Homo sapiens: one gene and its partners. The protein of the gene in region 4 purifies or fractionates together with the protein of the main gene of each other region. This does not show direct contact. Each region holds a gene or a part of one and is shown on either strand. Other genes may lie near its edges.

Evidence for each region.
Region 1: the proteins of CCDC61 (region 4) and CEP131 purify together in Homo sapiens (co-immunoprecipitation; one study listed by IntAct). This does not show direct contact.
Region 2: the proteins of CCDC61 (region 4) and CCDC13 purify together in Homo sapiens (co-immunoprecipitation; one study listed by IntAct). This does not show direct contact.
Region 3: the proteins of CCDC61 (region 4) and EPB41L2 purify together in Homo sapiens (tandem affinity purification; one study listed by IntAct). This does not show direct contact.
Region 5: the proteins of CCDC61 (region 4) and CLINT1 purify together in Homo sapiens (tandem affinity purification; one study listed by IntAct). This does not show direct contact.

Annotation. Positions count from the first base shown.
Region 1 is NC_000017.11:81,216,454-81,219,974, forward strand, and holds part of CEP131 (centrosomal protein of 131 kDa), read right to left. Parts: coding exon 3,427-3,521; intron 1-3,426. UniProt on the Homo sapiens protein: Component of centriolar satellites contributing to the building of a complex and dynamic network required to regulate cilia/flagellum formation.
Region 2 is NC_000003.12:42,738,753-42,742,273, forward strand, and holds part of CCDC13 (coiled-coil domain-containing protein 13), read right to left. Parts: intron 2,336-3,521; exon of another isoform or gene 2,223-2,335; intron 1,059-2,222; coding exon 882-1,058; intron 1-881. UniProt on the Homo sapiens protein: Required for primary cilia formation and promotes the localization of the ciliopathy protein BBS4 to both centriolar satellites and cilia.
Region 3 is NC_000006.12:130,838,847-130,841,067, reverse strand, and holds the end of EPB41L2 (band 4.1-like protein 2), read left to right. Parts: intron 1-469; 3' UTR 470-1,721; downstream 1,722-2,221. UniProt on the Homo sapiens protein: Required for dynein-dynactin complex and NUMA1 recruitment at the mitotic cell cortex during anaphase.
Region 4 is NC_000019.10:45,998,454-46,001,974, forward strand, and holds part of CCDC61 (centrosomal protein CCDC61), read left to right. Parts: intron 1-3,521. UniProt on the Homo sapiens protein: Microtubule-binding centrosomal protein required for centriole cohesion, independently of the centrosome-associated protein/CEP250 and rootletin/CROCC linker.
Region 5 is NC_000005.10:157,849,145-157,852,665, reverse strand, and holds part of CLINT1 (clathrin interactor 1), read left to right. Parts: intron 1-3,521. UniProt on the Homo sapiens protein: Binds to membranes enriched in phosphatidylinositol 4,5-bisphosphate (PtdIns(4,5)P2). May have a role in transport via clathrin-coated vesicles from the trans-Golgi network to endosomes. Stimulates clathrin assembly.

The DNA of each region.
Region 1 (3,521 bases), on a different chromosome or scaffold from region 4:
CCGGGAGGTGGAGGCTGCAGTAAGCTGTGGTTTCTCCACTGCACTCCAGCCTGGGCAACAGAGCAAGACCCCGTCTTAAAAAGAAAAAGAAAAGAGAATGCAGGAGCCCCACGCAGCTGACGGATACGGCACTTGTTCCAACACATCTCCAGCATCACTGATGCCTGTGTGCCCAGAGTAAGTGTGGGTGCAGGAGAAACAGAACAGTGGCCGCCTAGGAGAGGCCCGCAAGGTCGGGCAGGACAGGCTCACTGCTCAATGAGCCCCCTTTTCCCAAATGGTGGGTGTGAATGGCCTATTCAAAACACATGGTAGGAATTTTGAAATCATCCCCCAAAATGGCACCAGTCATTGCATCAGGGCCATGGGATTATGGGTGCCCTTCATCCTGTCTCCATTTTCCTGGGGTCAGTTTCGCAGCCTCCAAGAGGAAGATAAGGGATGTCAGGGGAGGGATGAAGGGGCTGCCACTCACTGACGGACACCACGGTGGAAAGGCACCACTCATGCTCAGATGGTAAATCAAGTCATGGACTAAAAACCCTAAACTCCACCTGCAAGAAGGAGGCAACATCGCCCAGGGAGGGGCAGGTGGCCCCCATGGCCATGACACATATGCACAGTGATGTCTGTTCCCCAGTGAGCTTGTGCTCTTGGGATTTAAAGACCTCTTTTCTTTAAGGGGAAGGGAACCAGAGTGAATAATGATCTAGGGGGCTAGAGGATCAGGTGGGCACACAGCTGGGGCAAGGAAGAGGGACCCTCTACAGTCTGGCACCGACATCTCTTGAGCCAGAAGACCAGCAGGAACTGCAGTTACATCCTGGATGGGGAATCCCGGGACAGCAGGCCGTGGACGCAGGAAGATCTTTAGAGACAAGGGGTAGAGTGGAAACCCCAGGCCAATGGCCACCGAGAAGGTCTCCGAGCCAGGGGACAGCACCCCACCCCACCCACAAACACCAGGAGGAAGAGAATCACGTGCCGCCTTGTACAGGTGTGAAGCCATGCCTGGCCAAAACAAATGCTCTCCAGGAATCCCGATGAGACTGAGTGGTAGCAGGGCAGGTGGCCGAGAGGATGGGGACCGGGCACAACAGAAACCCCTGAGGTCACGTCACACACTGGCGGGGGTTCCTCTTCCACCAGCAGTTCCCGAGCTCCCACCATGGGCACAACAGAAGGCAGACAGGCATGCAGGGGTGGGGCCGTCTCGGATCGAGCGAGGGCCTCAAAGAATTGAAGTGAACAGCTGGAACATTCCATGAACGAGGGGACTGTTAGCAGTCGCCACTCAACACTGCGGGAGCGGGCAATGGTACCAGCCGAGGAAAGGAGGGATCGATATGAGTAGCGCTCGCTGTGGCTTTGAACCTCTACTCAGCAACAGAACATTTCCCAGCAGAAAGGCTGGGAGTGTGGTTAGGTGCCTGGGTCGGCCGCGGATAGAGCCTGGCCATGCCGCCGAAAGACCATCTACTAGAAAGCCCGGAAACTTTTACAACAGTCTCCACACAACAAGAGAGCTGCAATTTCTTTCTTTCTCCTTCTCCCTCTCCCTCTCCCTCCCCCTCCCCCTCCCTCTTTCTTTCTTTCTTTCTTTTTTTGAGACAGAGTCTTGCTCTTTCGCCCAGGCTGGAGTACAGTGGCATGATCTCGGCTCACTGCAGCCTCCTCCGCCCGGGTTCAAGCAACTCTCCTGTCTCAGCCTCCTGAGTAGCTGGGATTAAGGGTGCGCGCCACCACGCCCGGCTAATTTTTGCATTTTCAGTAGAGGCAGGGTTTCACTATGTTGGCCAGGCTGGTATTGAACTCCTGACCTCAGGTGATCCACCCGCCTCAACCTCCCAAAGTGCTGGGATCACGGGCGTGAGCCACCTCGCCCAGCCCAGATCTGCGATTTCGAGTGCGTCTTCCCCGCCCCATGTGCCATGAACCTAGGGCTTTAGAAACAGCGGGAGGGGCCAAGGCAGGTGGGCGAGGGGGTCAGTGACGCAGGAGCAGGGCTGCGGACAGGAGAGGCAGCAGGCTCAGAGACGGCTCTAGCCCAAGCTGGTTACCCCTCTGCTAAAACAGTGCAGCATATTTTTATTTTCACAGCTTACGTCTGTAAATGCCTAGAGGCGTACCACATCTTTAGACAACCTGCCGGCCACAATGACACATCAGGACATCCCGGGTCCCCGCCCTGCTGGCCCAGGCTTTGGGAACCTGCTTGGTCCAAGGGTCCGCTACTGGCCCGGCTGCCCTTACCCCGGAACTCGGCTAGCCGTCTGGCGGGCCACACCCTGCCCACCTGGGGGTGCTTCTAGGGCAGACACAGGAATAACTTTTTCAAGGAGAAGGGGGAGGTCCAAGCCTTTTATTCACAGTGGAACCCTGGCCTGGGCCTGCCAGGGGTTCCTGTGGGAAGCCTCAACTGCCCTCCAGACCCCTTCTCTCTGCCCTGCTATGTTGCCTGGCACGGACCTCAGGCAGGGAGCCCCAGACCGGCTGCCGCATGGAAGCCAAGGCCCCCAGGCCCTTGCTATTCGGAAGCTCAGGCCAGACTCTGGTCAGGCTCTGCCCCAACCCCCACAGAGCGGCTCGATTCCTCCCTTGCCCCAAAGACTGGGCCTGGCAGACACCAACTCAGGGTGCAGCAGGCCCGGCCTGCCTTTCACAGCCCCCATCTGGGAACCACCCACCCTCCTCCCTACTCCCAGAGGTGGGCAGGAAAGGCAGCTCTCACCCCGAAGCTCCCACGGCTGTCCTGCTGCCCACACACCCACACACCCGTCTAGGTTTCTCCAAGGCCACCAGGAGCTCATCACCCCTCCCCACAGGTCAACCCCATTTCTTTCTTTTTTTTTTTTTTTTGAGATGGCATCTCACTCTGTCGCCAGGCTGGAGTGCAACGGCACGATCTCGGCTCACCGCAACCTCTGCCTCCTGGGTTCGAGCAAATCTCCTGCCTCAGCCTCCCGAGTAGCTAGGATTACAGGCATGCACCACCATGCCCGGCTAATTTTTTTTTGTATCTTTAGTAGAGACGGAGTTTCACCATGTTGGTCAGGCTGGTCTTGAACTGCTGACCTCAGATGACCCGCCTGCCTCGGCCTCCCAAAGTGCTGAGATTACAGGCGTGAGCCACCGAGCCCAGCCAACCCCATTTCCTGAGGATTCAAACAAATCCAAAGGGCGGTGGCACAGGAGGCCTGGGGCTGTTGCTGAAAGAATCCAAGCTCTGGCTTGACTTTCTAGTGATTCAGCACCCACGCCTGTAAGACTCAAGTCCTACCTGCCTCCTGGAACAGCCACGAGGATCCAGCATGTCCAGATGTGAGGCACTTGTTCACCTGTGGAGCTGGACCCAGGGGTCAGATGCCAACTGAACAACAGCCCTCCAGGAGGCAGGGGCCCGGACTCCTAGGCCACAGTACTCACCAGCACCTTCCTCTTCTGCTCGCTGCCTGTGACCACGGAGACAGAGCGGACGATGGGCTTGGTGGTGGCGGCACTGCCAGGACGCCGGGACACAG
Region 2 (3,521 bases), on a different chromosome or scaffold from region 4:
ATTGATTTTGTATCCTGAGACTCCTGAAGTTGCTTATCAGCTTAAGGAGATTTTGGGCTGAGATGATGGGGTTTTCTAAATATACAATCATGTCATCTGCAAACAGGAACAATTTGACTTCCTCATTTCCTATTTGAATACCCTTTATTTCTTTCTCTTGCCTGATCGCCCTGGCCAGAACTTCCAACACTATGTTGAATAGGAGTGGTGAGAGAGGGCATCCTTGTCCTGTGCTGGTTTTCAAAGGGAATGCTTCCAGTTTTTGCCCATTCAGTATGATATTGGCTGTGGGTTTGTCATAAATAGCTCTTATTATTTTGAGATACGTTTAATCCAGGAAGTTTTTATAGTCAGATAAACCTGCTTTGAACTCAGTTGTATGGTCTTAGATGAGTTATCTAATGAATTTGAGTCTTAGTTTCCCCATCTGTGAAGTGGGATTAAAATATATGATCCTAGAAGTTATCTTAGGGACTAAGCATTATAACATGCCCAGAAGAGGAAGGGTTCTGTGCCACTGCAGAGATAAGAACTGGTACTGGCTCCTCTTGTCCCTTTCATTCCTTGCTGAAAAATAACCCAGGGTATAATCCCACCTCCTTCCCCCAATACATTTCTGTCTCTTTTGGGGTCCATAGGCCCAGTGCCTTGTGCCTGGTGCTGCTCCATCACAGCCCCCTACCTGCCCTCAGGCAGCCTCCCTGAGCTGCTCCTGTCCCTGGGGCAGGGCTTTGGTACTGGGGGCCATCTGGAGGCAACGGGCTTTGGGGTTACACAGGTGGCATTGAGGGGTGAGTGAGGGCTCACTCTGGCCATGGCTGGGGCCCATCCTTTGAGGAACCACCCCTGGCTCTCGCCCTGCCTGAGTGGTGGGGCCATACCATGAGGGCGTCGATGAGCTCGTCATCATGCCGGCCCTTCTCCACCAGGGTTCCCATCTGACTCTTGAGGGTCTTCATCTCACTTGACAGCAGCTTGTTCCGAGACCTCATGCCCTCGAACTTCTTTTTTAGCTCTTCAAGCTCTCTCTGGAGGACATCCCGTTCACTGGCAAGTTTCTGTAATTAGAAAGTGAGGGCATGGGCAGCAGGGCTGTGTGGGACCTTGGCCACATCTGCTCCCTGGCTCCTACTCAATGGCAAGGCCCGGGGCTGGGGGTGGGGGTGCTTGTTGAATGCCACAGAGCAAGTCACTAGAGCCAGGGCCCTGACTCCCAGCCCAGGCCTCTCAGGGATATCAGGTGGCCAGCAGCCTCCCACCCTTCCCCTAGCACATGACAGCACTAACCCATGACAGCACTCCTAACCTCAGCCTGAGACACAGACTTCCTAGCACATGAGAGGAAAGCCGCCAGCCAACTGCGTGTGTCCTCCAGAGAGCACAGCCAGTCCTACCCCTAAGCCCCTCCCCAAGCAGGGGAAAAGAGAAAAGCCATACTTTAGAAAAAGAGTGCTGGGCTAGGTTCCAACTGCAGCACCTTGCACCACCAGGAGCTAGAATGAGAAAGGAGGGTCTTTTCTCCCACTTCCTCCATGATTATTTGGCACAACCCCTGACAGCACCTTGCTTTGTCAGCTACCAACTGGAAACTCACATGCAGCACACATCTTCGGAGTCTCTCATTCAATCATCCCTTCATTCTCGAGGGTTTCCTGAGGGCCTACTATGGGTTTCCTGAGGTTTCCTACTATGGTTTCCTGAGGGCCTACTATGGGCTTAGTATTGTTATAGATGCTGGGGGACAGCAAAAAGCAAAACAGTCCTTGTCCTCAAGGAGCTGATAATCCTAATGGAGGAGACAGATAATGTCAAATAGTGACAAATGCTAATTTGAAAGTAGGAAACAGGAATAGCGAGAAGGATATGGTCAGGTAAGGCCTTTCTGAAAAGGTGGCATCTGAGCAGAGACTGAAGGAGATGAAGGGAAGAGCAAAGGCCCTGGGGTAGAAGGTGTGTGGCTGGAGCACAGTGAGTGAAGGGGCAGAGGTTAGATTAGGCAAACCCATAAAGACAAGATGGAGACATTGGGGAGGAGCTTGGGCAGTGGGTGACATCACCTGCTTGATCCTGAGGGTGAATTGTTGCTGGAAAAGTATTTTCATATCCTTGATGAAGTGAATTATAGAAATGCAAAACAAGTAAAACATGAATCTATAGGACACAAGCCCTTTGCAGGGAGGCAGCCATTACTCACCTGTTGCTCTCCTGCCTACACACTCCAGGCTCTTATGGGTGCCTGCCAGAGGGAATGCATGCAGGAAGCTGTTTCCTTCCACCCGCTATTGCAGCTTATGGTCAGCCCAACTGTTCAACATAATCTGTTCTGCACTAACATGTAAGTTCAAGCTAGGTGCATTTCAAACCCAGCATTTCCAAATCTCAACTCCCTTTCTCTTCTTGAACCCACCCTGTCTCCCTTACCCACCCACTATACTCCCTAGAAGTCCTTTATAACTCTTCCTCCTCATCTCTCTTCCAAGTCCAATCAGTCCTTGAGCCCTAGAAAGTCTGTCCTCACTGTCCCAGGTGTCTGGCCCTTCCATGACAGTCCACTATCTTGGCAAAGATCTTTGGTCATGTCTCCAGGATTACTATTCTGCCTTCCATTCCTCTTCCAACCCATTCCTCCTCTTGCTCCAACCATGTGACCTTTCCAAAATGCACAGCTGACCACCTCCCTCCACAAATTAAAACCCTGTCGTGGGCTCGGCGAATGGCTCACACCTGTAATCCCAGCACTTTGTGAGGCCGAGGCAGGTGGATCACCTGACGTTAGGAATTTGAGACCAGCCTGACCAACACAGTGAAACCCTGTCTCTACTAAATATATAAAAATTAGCCGGGCATGGTGGCAGGTGCCTGTAATCCCAGCTACTTGGGAGGCTGAGGCAGGAGAATCACTTGAACCCCGGAGGCGGAGGTTGCAGTAAGCCAAGATCACACCATTGCACTCCAGCCTGGGCAACAGAGCGAGACTCTATCTAAAAAAAAACAAAAACCGTTTGGTGGTTCTCCACAGCCTTCAAGATACAGGCCAAAAGTCCTGGCTGGCATACAAAGCCCAGCAGGCCCTGTCCACTTCTGTGGTCTCACTGTTTCCCTCCTCACAGCTGATGGTCTACAGCGCTGGGAGGTGCAATGTGGTCATGGTTACAGCATTCCTAACACAGGGCCTAACCCAGCGTTGGTGCTCACAGGCAAAAGTCTCCAGATGAAAAGGCAAGTCCTCACTGTTAGGTAGCTCACTGCCAGGGCCACTACGTGGGCCTGTTGTATGGCCTGCCTGCACCTCTTCATGCTGCTTCTGTTACCTTCTTTAAAGTGGCCCCTACTCCCTACTCTCATTGCAAGTTTGGGGAGGCTAACTCATCCCCTCAAACCTTGGGGCAGGTGTCTGAAGCTTGACCAATCAAAACACCCTGTACTCTTGGCTACAGTGATGGGCTCAAGGATGGTCACATAACCCAGGCTAGACCAAAGACACTCAATTCTGGGACTTTGTTGGAACTATTGGGAAAGAG
Region 3 (2,221 bases), on a different chromosome or scaffold from region 4:
AACATACATCTTACTGTCATAATACTGTGTACTTCTTCACCTCCATGCCTCTTTCCTCATTGTGTTTTTCCACCTGAAGCACCATTTCCATTCGTTTTAGCACAAAGAAAATAGACTTTGACTTTCCCTTTCCCTGAGTATAGCTTTAAAACCTACCTTGGTTTCTGTCTTTAAATTCTTACATATGAATTGTCTCTGTTTTATGCTAATAAATTCTTTTGCAGTGAACTCTTATTTGCCAGTTGCTTCTAGCGTACTTGTCAATTCTCCAGGTATTTTAAGGCCCTCGAGAGTGGAATAGTGTCTCATGCTTGTCTTCTGGTAAACATACTATTTAATGTAAGACTAGGCAGACAGTAACTGTTGATTACTTGATTGAAAACTTGATGAATGTTACTTAACATTTTTTTCAAGCCTGTGTTTTTGGAATATTTAAGCCTTCTGTTTTTTTTTTTTTTTTCTCTTCTAGAAAGTCATTTTTTAAACAACACTCAACTTTGTGAACCCCTGAAGATTTTTTGACCGTTCCAAGTCTTAATGCCACACCACTATTCCAGCGAATTTATGCTACAACTGGTAACAATGACCAGAAGCCTGAAGAATTAAAATGCCAACACCAAACCTTTCCTTACCAGCTCTGGTCTATATTGCTCCCATGCATTTAATATATTATTTTGTTTTATAACCACTTCTAAATATTCTCAGTTCTTTCTTTTTGTTGTTGTTAATTAAGGGGTTTTGGTTTTGTTTTCTGTTTACTTTGTGTGCAACTACCTGCTTTTAATGACTCACTTTGATCAAATGACAGTGAACAAAGCCAGCCCAAGCTGGTAAGGTGCTGTTCACTTGAACAGGTGCTGTTGCGCAGAAAGGAAACTCTGTGACTAATTTAGATAGTGGCTTTCCTTCTTCTGGATTCTTTTCATTGAATTCTCACAGTAAATATTTACGGAGTTTTCAAATTGCAGCAAATATACTGTATGAGAAAATATTAATACAGATTAAAAGCCTTTCTTACATCTTGAAAATTTTCTAATATTTGAGAATTTCACAGGGATGTTTTTTATATTGGACCCTTTTGACTTTCCAGTCCTGTGACTTTCTACTTTTAGTAGAGAGTCAGAATCTCTGGACTGGAGAATAATGAAGAAGTTCACTGACTGTGCACTGTGCTTAGAGACCCTGCCGCACCACAGTGCCAATGCTTGTCAGACACATGCCCTTCGGCAGCATTCCAGAACAGGAGGGAAGAGAAAGAGAAAACTTTCTTCCCTTCTACTAAAAGATTCAGGCAGCTTAAAACCTTAGTGCTTTCTTTCTTAACATACCCACATTTCAATTCTTTCCATTATTTGAACACTTGGGTAGAACTCTTGCTTTGTATTAAACCTCTTTGTCTACACATGTAAAACTTACCTTTTGTTATTGAGCAGGCCTATCTCTTTCAGATAGTTTTATGATTCACACAGGTTTGAGGATGCTGGGGAGAGGGGGAGGGGGCTGTGGTGGTGTTCTGTTGGTTACAAGAAAGTTATACCATTTAAAGCTGGCACCAGAGACCCGATAGGGACTTATTAACTATATTGAACATTTTTTCCTTTGCCTTTGACCCTATGTATAGTTACGATGCCAGATTAGATTTATAGCAGCCTCAAGTTGTATTAAATGATATTTTGCTTCCTGTAATACTATTATAAAATAAAGTTTGTTTATTCTCTAAACTTGTCACTTCTCTTTTTCTAAAGGGTTAAAAAAACAAACTTGAGTGATATTTTTCATCAGAAGTCTTAGTATTTTGTGAAAAGTAGCATTTCAAAATCTGTTTTCAGCTCTTCTGTAATTTGATGATGCTGCCAACATCACTATTTGAAACGGTGAAAGCGACGTTGAAAGTTTGTAAATCTAATGTTGAGAGTGCCAGATTCCTTCTGCCTGGTTACATAATCCATTCCAGCTTTTACGAATTCTCCGAGGGATATTTTTGCTTGTTTTCTTTGTGCATTTTTCATTTTGTTTTCAGGAAATATTTTAGCTGTACCATCTGAATCTTGCTCCTCTGCTTCATGTCCTTCTTTACTTTGTGTCCACTGGCCCTCTGTATATCAGGCAAACTAGGCCACTGAGGGGCTGCATCCCAGTCTGATTGGGATGCTTTCTTGTGAAACTTTTGTTGGGGCACACCAGGTTATGGTGTTATTATAGAGCAAATAACCAACAGGGT
Region 4 (3,521 bases):
GAGACAGCTCCTGACCCAGCCTGGGAGTCAGGGAGGGCTTCCTGCAGGAGAGGGGATTGGAGCTGAGACCTGGAGGATGACAGGGAATGAGCCGAGGGGAGAAAACCTTGGCTGTATCCCCAGTGTCTAGAACCCCATTCCCTGGCATCTCCCGTTAAATTCACAAGCAGTCCCTGAAGATACAAGATTGATTAAAATGGCTCTGCCCTCACGGGCTCCTGGTCTGTCAAATAATCAACAGATCACACAGATGGTAACAGGGAGTGCCAGCCACTGTTTGAAGCACCTTATATACACTAAATAATTTAGTTCAACAACAACCCTATAAGGTAGGAGCTCTTATTATCCCGCTTTACTGATGGGGGAAGGCCCAGAGAGGGCAAGTACTTTGCCCAAGGACACACCAAGGAGAAAGGCAGCTGGAATCTGAACCCAGAAGTACCCAGCCTGCAGCATGTGCCATGCTTAAGGTGTGAGGCCGCATTTGGGTTAGTTCTGGGAGGAAACAGGAGGTGGTCAGGGAAGGTCAGCTGGGTAAGGGGAAGGAAGACGAATGTTTCTGTCTTTCATGGTGGGATCCTAGACAAGCCTCAGTTTCATCCTCTGTATAATGGGGATGGTTATAATACCCACCAGAGAGCAGAATTTAGGGTGAGTCATTCATTGGGTTAATAAGTGTGCATGGTCCTTATCTAAGGCAAAAGTTTGCCTTTGAGAGACAGTGGGAGAGGGAGTTGATGCCCCAGGGGGAACTGGGGTGCCGCAGTGTGCACCGTAGAGATTTCATTGCTTGGTTCCCCAGAGGGCTTCTCTGTCTCTACAGTCTATGGGGACAATGTGGAAGGCTTTGGTCTGTATTCTGGGGCAGTGAAGGGGGGGTTCTATCCAGCCTCAATTCACCCACGTGGTGGGGAGGTGAGGTCAGAATGGGGTCGGGAAGGGGGTCATCCAGGCCAGGCCACGCGTGTGAATGTGGGGCGGAGGGCTGCTGCAGGAGAGAGCCCATCTAGGGTATGGCTGGGCTGGAATATGTGTTGGCGGTGGTGGGGAGCTGCAGAGTGTGGGGAAACAGCCATCAGGTGTGGGCTGCCAAGGGCAGTGATTTGCCCGTGTCTGGTATGGGAGGTAGTGATGTAGATTTGTCTTTGGTGAGCCCAGCGTGGAGAGTTTTCAGCTCCGGCCCCGGGGTAAGAGCTGTGAAATCTGTGAGCTATCTGGGGAGAGCCATTTGGAAGGTGGAGCCAGGGGTGGTGATGTAACGCTGGAAAGGAAAGGGGTCATCCTAGTGAATGATGAGAGGGAGAGAGCTGGGGGCTGAAACACTGGGTGTAAGTGTGCCAGCGCCATGATGTCATGAGGCCCGAGAAGTGGGTCAGGTGTGTGGGCCAGGATGGGGCCTGGAGGGCAGCCGCACAGTGCTCGCAGGGATGGGGTGGTGACGTCATGGGTTGGTGAGGGCGGGGCCTCGAAGGCACCGCTGGGATGCGTGAGGTCAGGAAGGAGGCAGAGGCTGAGAAGAGGAACTGGGAGAGGCTCAGGACTGGAATGAAATCAGCCACCAGGATGAGCCACTGGTCATTCCGAAGCAAGGATGGAGGATGCAGGTAGAGGGACAGGGTCAGCGGCGGGAGGGGAGAGGGGGCTCAGGGTCCGGGGAATCCTAGAAGTGGCGGTGGTGGTGGGGTCAGTGGAGAGGAGGGGTTGTTCAGAGAGGGCTCTCTAAAGGGAAGAGAGGTGGAAAATATGTGTGCGGGTGGAGTGGGGGTTGGGGGTGGGGTTACAAGCAATTTGGGAGGGAACAGAATCCAGGTGAAATATGGGAGTGATGGAATACAGGCTGAAAGTGGGATGTGTGGAGCAGAACCTTGAGCAAATATGCGGGAAGAATGCAGTTGGAATAACGGGGTGCATTGAAGTTGAATATGCGGGAGCCCTAGGAGACCGTGGGTGGCTGGTGTAGGGAGGAGAGTGCGGCTGCCTCCCTGCCCCCAAATCTGGGAGAGCAGGATGGAATGAAGGGGCTTTGGACGGGAGAGAGGGGGCTGGTTTCCGGGGAATGTAGCATGAGGGTTGGGCTGGAATATGTGGAGTGGGAGGTTCTGCAGAGAGGAGGGGAAGGGGAGTCCAGAATTCCGTGGCCATCTGGGGGACAAGTGACGGGCAGCTGGGGTCAGGGAGGCCGTGTGGAGCTGGCACGGGTGTGGGATTTATTCCATCAGCAGTTACTGAGCACTTAGGACATGCCTAGAGGAGGGGAAGGGGCCGGGCAGCGGGTGAAGTTTGTGGAGGTGAGAGAGGTGTAAGTGTGCAAGGGGAATTGAGTTTAGGCAGAGTATTCGGTGGCTCAGTGTCTGGGATCAGGGCGGGGTGGGGGCTAAGGACAAGGCAATGGGATGCCGAAAGGGGCTGCTCTTCGCGGGGTGGGTATGGGGGGTTTCTGCCGAGCAGTGGGGAAAGGGGAGTTGGCGGCGGGGATGCGGTGTGGCGGGCCCCCTTCCTCTGTGCGGTCTCCTCCCGGGAGTTGGGGACCACGAGTGGGGGCGGTGATGCTGTGCGGCTCCTCAGGTGTTCAGTTCCGTGGGTGCCTCCTACGCCTTGGTAACCCGGACGGTGTCGCCGCTGATAGGTTCTGGGAGCCGGAGGGGGTGGGGTTGATGGGCGGGGTTTAGAACACCCAGTGGGGCGGGGCCAGTGCTGCCACGCACTGCATTGGGGTCAGGGGATGTGGGATATGCGGCAATTTGTTTGCAGCAAGATCGAGATTATTATTTTTTATTTATTTGTTTTTTCTGAGACAGAATCTTGCTCTGTTACCCAGGCTGGAGTGCAATGGCATGATCTTGGCTCACAGCAACCTCTGCCTCCCGGGTTCAAGCGATTCTCCTGTCTCAGCCTCCCGAGTAGCTGGGATTACAGGCACCTGCCACCACGCCCAGCTAATTTTTGTATTTTTAGTAGAGACGAGGTTTCACCATGTTGGCGAGGCCGGTCTCGAGCTGACCTCAAATGATCCACCCTCCTCGGCCTCCCAAAGTGCTGGGATTACAGGCGTGAGCCAACGCACACGGACGAGATCGAGATTATTAACCTGGACTTATGAACCATCAGAGAATGAAAGCACAATTGCCAGAATGTGAATTTTCCAGGGGAAGGGGGTCCCCGAATTCATCAGCCCTTCCAAAGCACTCTTCTCCCAAATGAAGTTAAGAGCTGTGATCTAGAGAGAGGTGTCTGTCAGGAGGTCTAGGGCCTACGCCATTGCCCTTGGGCCTCTGAGAAAAGAGATCTGTGGATGGGCCTGGGGGGTGGTAATTTGGGAGCCACTGAAATGAACTTGCAAAAGGTTTTGGGACTATTCATTTATCTGCAGAAGGCTCAGAAATTTCATTAGATTCTCAAAGGCTCAAGGACTCTAAAAAGGTTAAAAATCCCTTACCTGGAGTTTCAAGGATCATCTTTTTTGCCTCACAATATTGTATTTTCTGATATTAGATTTTATTTTATTTTTTGAGATGGAGTCT
Region 5 (3,521 bases), on a different chromosome or scaffold from region 4:
TATCTTTATTTCTCTGTAAAATAGAGATGATATTTTATAGGATTATGAGGATTAAATGTGAAACAGTATAGTACTTGACATACAGTAAACTCTTGAAACATCTATTACTGTTATTACTGTTACACACAAAACAGTATAACACTAGAAAAATCAAAGGAATACAGTGTTTGTGAAAATAGAGATATCATTGTCAGACTAGGTTATTTGTAAGTATGTAGGAACTATATCTTCATCCATGAAATCATTATTTTCAGTGAGTACTCTCTCTTAAGACTCAGTTTAGCCTACATATAGGACAGCTAATTTAAATACCTCTGTTGTTTATGCCTTGTATTATTTTTGCTAAATCATAAATGGCTTCTACTTTAATATTGCAAAGCATATTGCAGAAATACCCTTTCAAAAGACATGTTGAGGAATAAAGTCTTTGGAAAGACATATCGCGAATTCCATCTGCCAATTCTTAATATTTTGTTCAGCTTGTTTTGTGTATTCTCAAGATTTTAAAGTAACTGCTAATGTAAAACATTACTAAAACATAAAAAGATTTATTTCATAAATGCAAATTGAAGCAGACAATTTATTCTTAAGAGACTGAACAATATCAAGAAAAAGAATCCTCTAAAATATGTGATACCAAATTCATGGTGTTTGACAATGGACAAACAGTATATACAAGGAAAGCACATTGGAGAAAGGGCTTTCTGGTTATTCAACCCCTCAAATTGGCAAGAAATTATTTGGCTTACCAGGGCTCTTTTGCCTGAAAATTAAATACAGGTAAAGGAACGTAATATATTCCTATGTTTGAGCCAATTTATAGCTACTTATTACTTGTGGATAGATTTAGCTAACGAATTATTAAATGTGAGTGATTTTGTTAATGTGCAACAGTGCACATGAATGGTTTGTACTTCATTTAAGAAGAGTCTAGTTAGCCAATTTTAGAATATTTCATTTCTTTTTTTTTTTTTTTTTTGAGACGGGGTCTTGCTCTGTCACTCAGGCTGGAGTGTAATGGTGCCATCTCTGCTTCAGCCTCCTAGGTTTAAGCGATCCTCCCAAGTAGCTTAAGCGATCCTCCCAAGTAGCTGGGACGACAGACACATGTCACAACACCCAGCTAATTTTTGTATTTTGGTAGAAATGGAGTTTTGCCGCATTTCCCAGGCTGGTCTCGAACTCCTGAGCTCAAGCAATCTACCCACCGTGGCCTCCCAAAATGCTGGAATTGCAGGTGTGAGCCACTGTGCCTGGCCTAGAATATTTGTTTTGACATGAATTTTATTTAGCTTCTCAATTCTTAGGACAGTATTTAAGTTCTAGATAACTTTAATATAAATAATCTTTTATAATTTTGCACACACTCATCATTATGTGGTAAACGTACATGCGTGCTTTTTCAACAACTATTGAATGAAATGTTTCATTCAAGAATTCTCATTCAAATAGCTTATATTTTTATAGTAGAAAAAAGGCATGCATTGAAAATTCAATTTTCGGGTTTTTTGTTTGTTTGTTTGTTTGCCATTTGTTTTCATGCATTTTTAGTAAATCATTAAAGAACAGTGCAAGGCCAGGTGCCGTGGCTCACAACTGTAATCCCAACACTTTGGGAGGCCGAGAAGGGAAGATCTCTTGAGCCCAGTAGTCCAAGACTAGCCTGGGCAACACAGACCTTGTCTCTACAAAAAAATTAAAAAATTAGCCGGACATGGTGATGCATGCCTATAGTCCCAGCTACATGGGAGGCTGAAATGGGAGGATCACTTGAACCCAGGAGTTGAAAGCTGCAGTGAGCTGTGATTGTGCCACTGCACTCTAGCCTGGGCAACAGAGTGAAACTTTGTCTCTAAAAAAATTTTTTTTAATATTAAAAAAAAGAACAATGCTAATAGGCATACTGAGCCTTTTTCTATTAATTTTTCTCATACTAATTTTTCATTTATCACTTTTTAAAGTGACTTAGGTTATACGGTTGAAACTACATGTCTTAATTTGTAGTTAAACCCCCATGGTTAAATAATTTTTTTTTTTTTTTTTTTTTTTTTTTGAGACAGGGTCTCACTTGTACCCAGGCTGGAGCGCAGTGGCATGCACGATCTTGACTCACTGCAGCCTTGACCTCCTGGGCTCAATCCATCCTCCCACCTTAGTCCCCCAAGTAAGAGGGACTACAGGTGCTTACCACCATGCCCGGCTAATTTTTTGTAGAGATAGGGTTTCATCATGCTCCCCAGGCTGGGCTCAAACTCTTGAGCTCAGGCAATCCGCCCGCCTCAAGCCTCCCAAAGTGCTAGGATTATAGGCGTGAGCCACTGTGCCCAGCCAGTAATATCCTTAGTTTGATGTATTTGGCTTATAAGTTCGGTACTGAATGGGGCTTTGAAGGATGGCCTGTTTCTCACTAAGCATGTAAAATGTTTAGCCCTGTCATCTGCTGTCCACTCAGCAGCGAGAGGGATTCTTTAAAAATACTAAGTCAAATGGGTTCAGAATTCTCCAGTGGCTTCTCATCTCATTGCTTAATTGCCTGTACAGATCTGGCTCTTTGTTGCCCCGCCTGTGATCTCTTCTCCCACCACTGTCCCTCACTTTCTCTGTTCTGTTCAGTGGACCTCCTGTATTACATAGTATGCACTCACACTCGTCACTATTTTTTTCTGTGCTTGCCTTCCTCTGTTACATGTATTCATCTCCTGCCTCTGATATGCAAGTTCCTTGAGGGCAGGAACTTTGTTTTGTTTACTGCTGTATTACTAACTCTTAGAACAATTATGACACATAGTAGGCGCTCAAATATTTTTGAATGAATACATTAAATTTGGTAAGTTGATATTTATTACAGAGGATATCCTTTAAATCCAGATATTTCTAATAATAAAAGCTAATAGTTATTGAGCATTTGCCATGTGCCAAGAACAAAGGTGACAACATTGTTATGTTCAATTTTCTTATGAGGAAATTGGGCACAGAATGCCAAGAGTGTGCCACAGATAGCACATCTAGAAGATAGTCTAGATTTAAATCTAGATGATATACTTTCAGAATATGTATTTAGCAGTTTATGCTAATCTTTTACAAGACATCATGTAAACAAAAAAATTGTTATACAGGCATACCTCAGAGATATTACAGGTTTAGTTCCAAACCACTGCAATAAAGTGAATATTGGAATAAAGCAAGTCATACAAATTTTTAGTTTCCCAGTTCATATAAAAGTTATGTTTCCACTATGTGGTAGTCTATTAAATGCACAATGGTATTATGTTTAAAAAAGTACATACCTTAATTTAAAAATATCTTATTGCTAAAAAGTACAGCCATCTGAGCTTTCAGCAGGTATTTATCATTCTGCTGGTGGAAAATCTTGCCTCCATGTTGATGGCTGCTGACTTATCAGGGTTGTGGGATTGCTGAAGTTTGGGGTGGCTGTGGCAATTTCTTAAAATAACAATGAAGTTTTCTGCATCATAGATTCTTCCTTTCACAGATGATTTCTCTGTAGCATGCAATGCTGC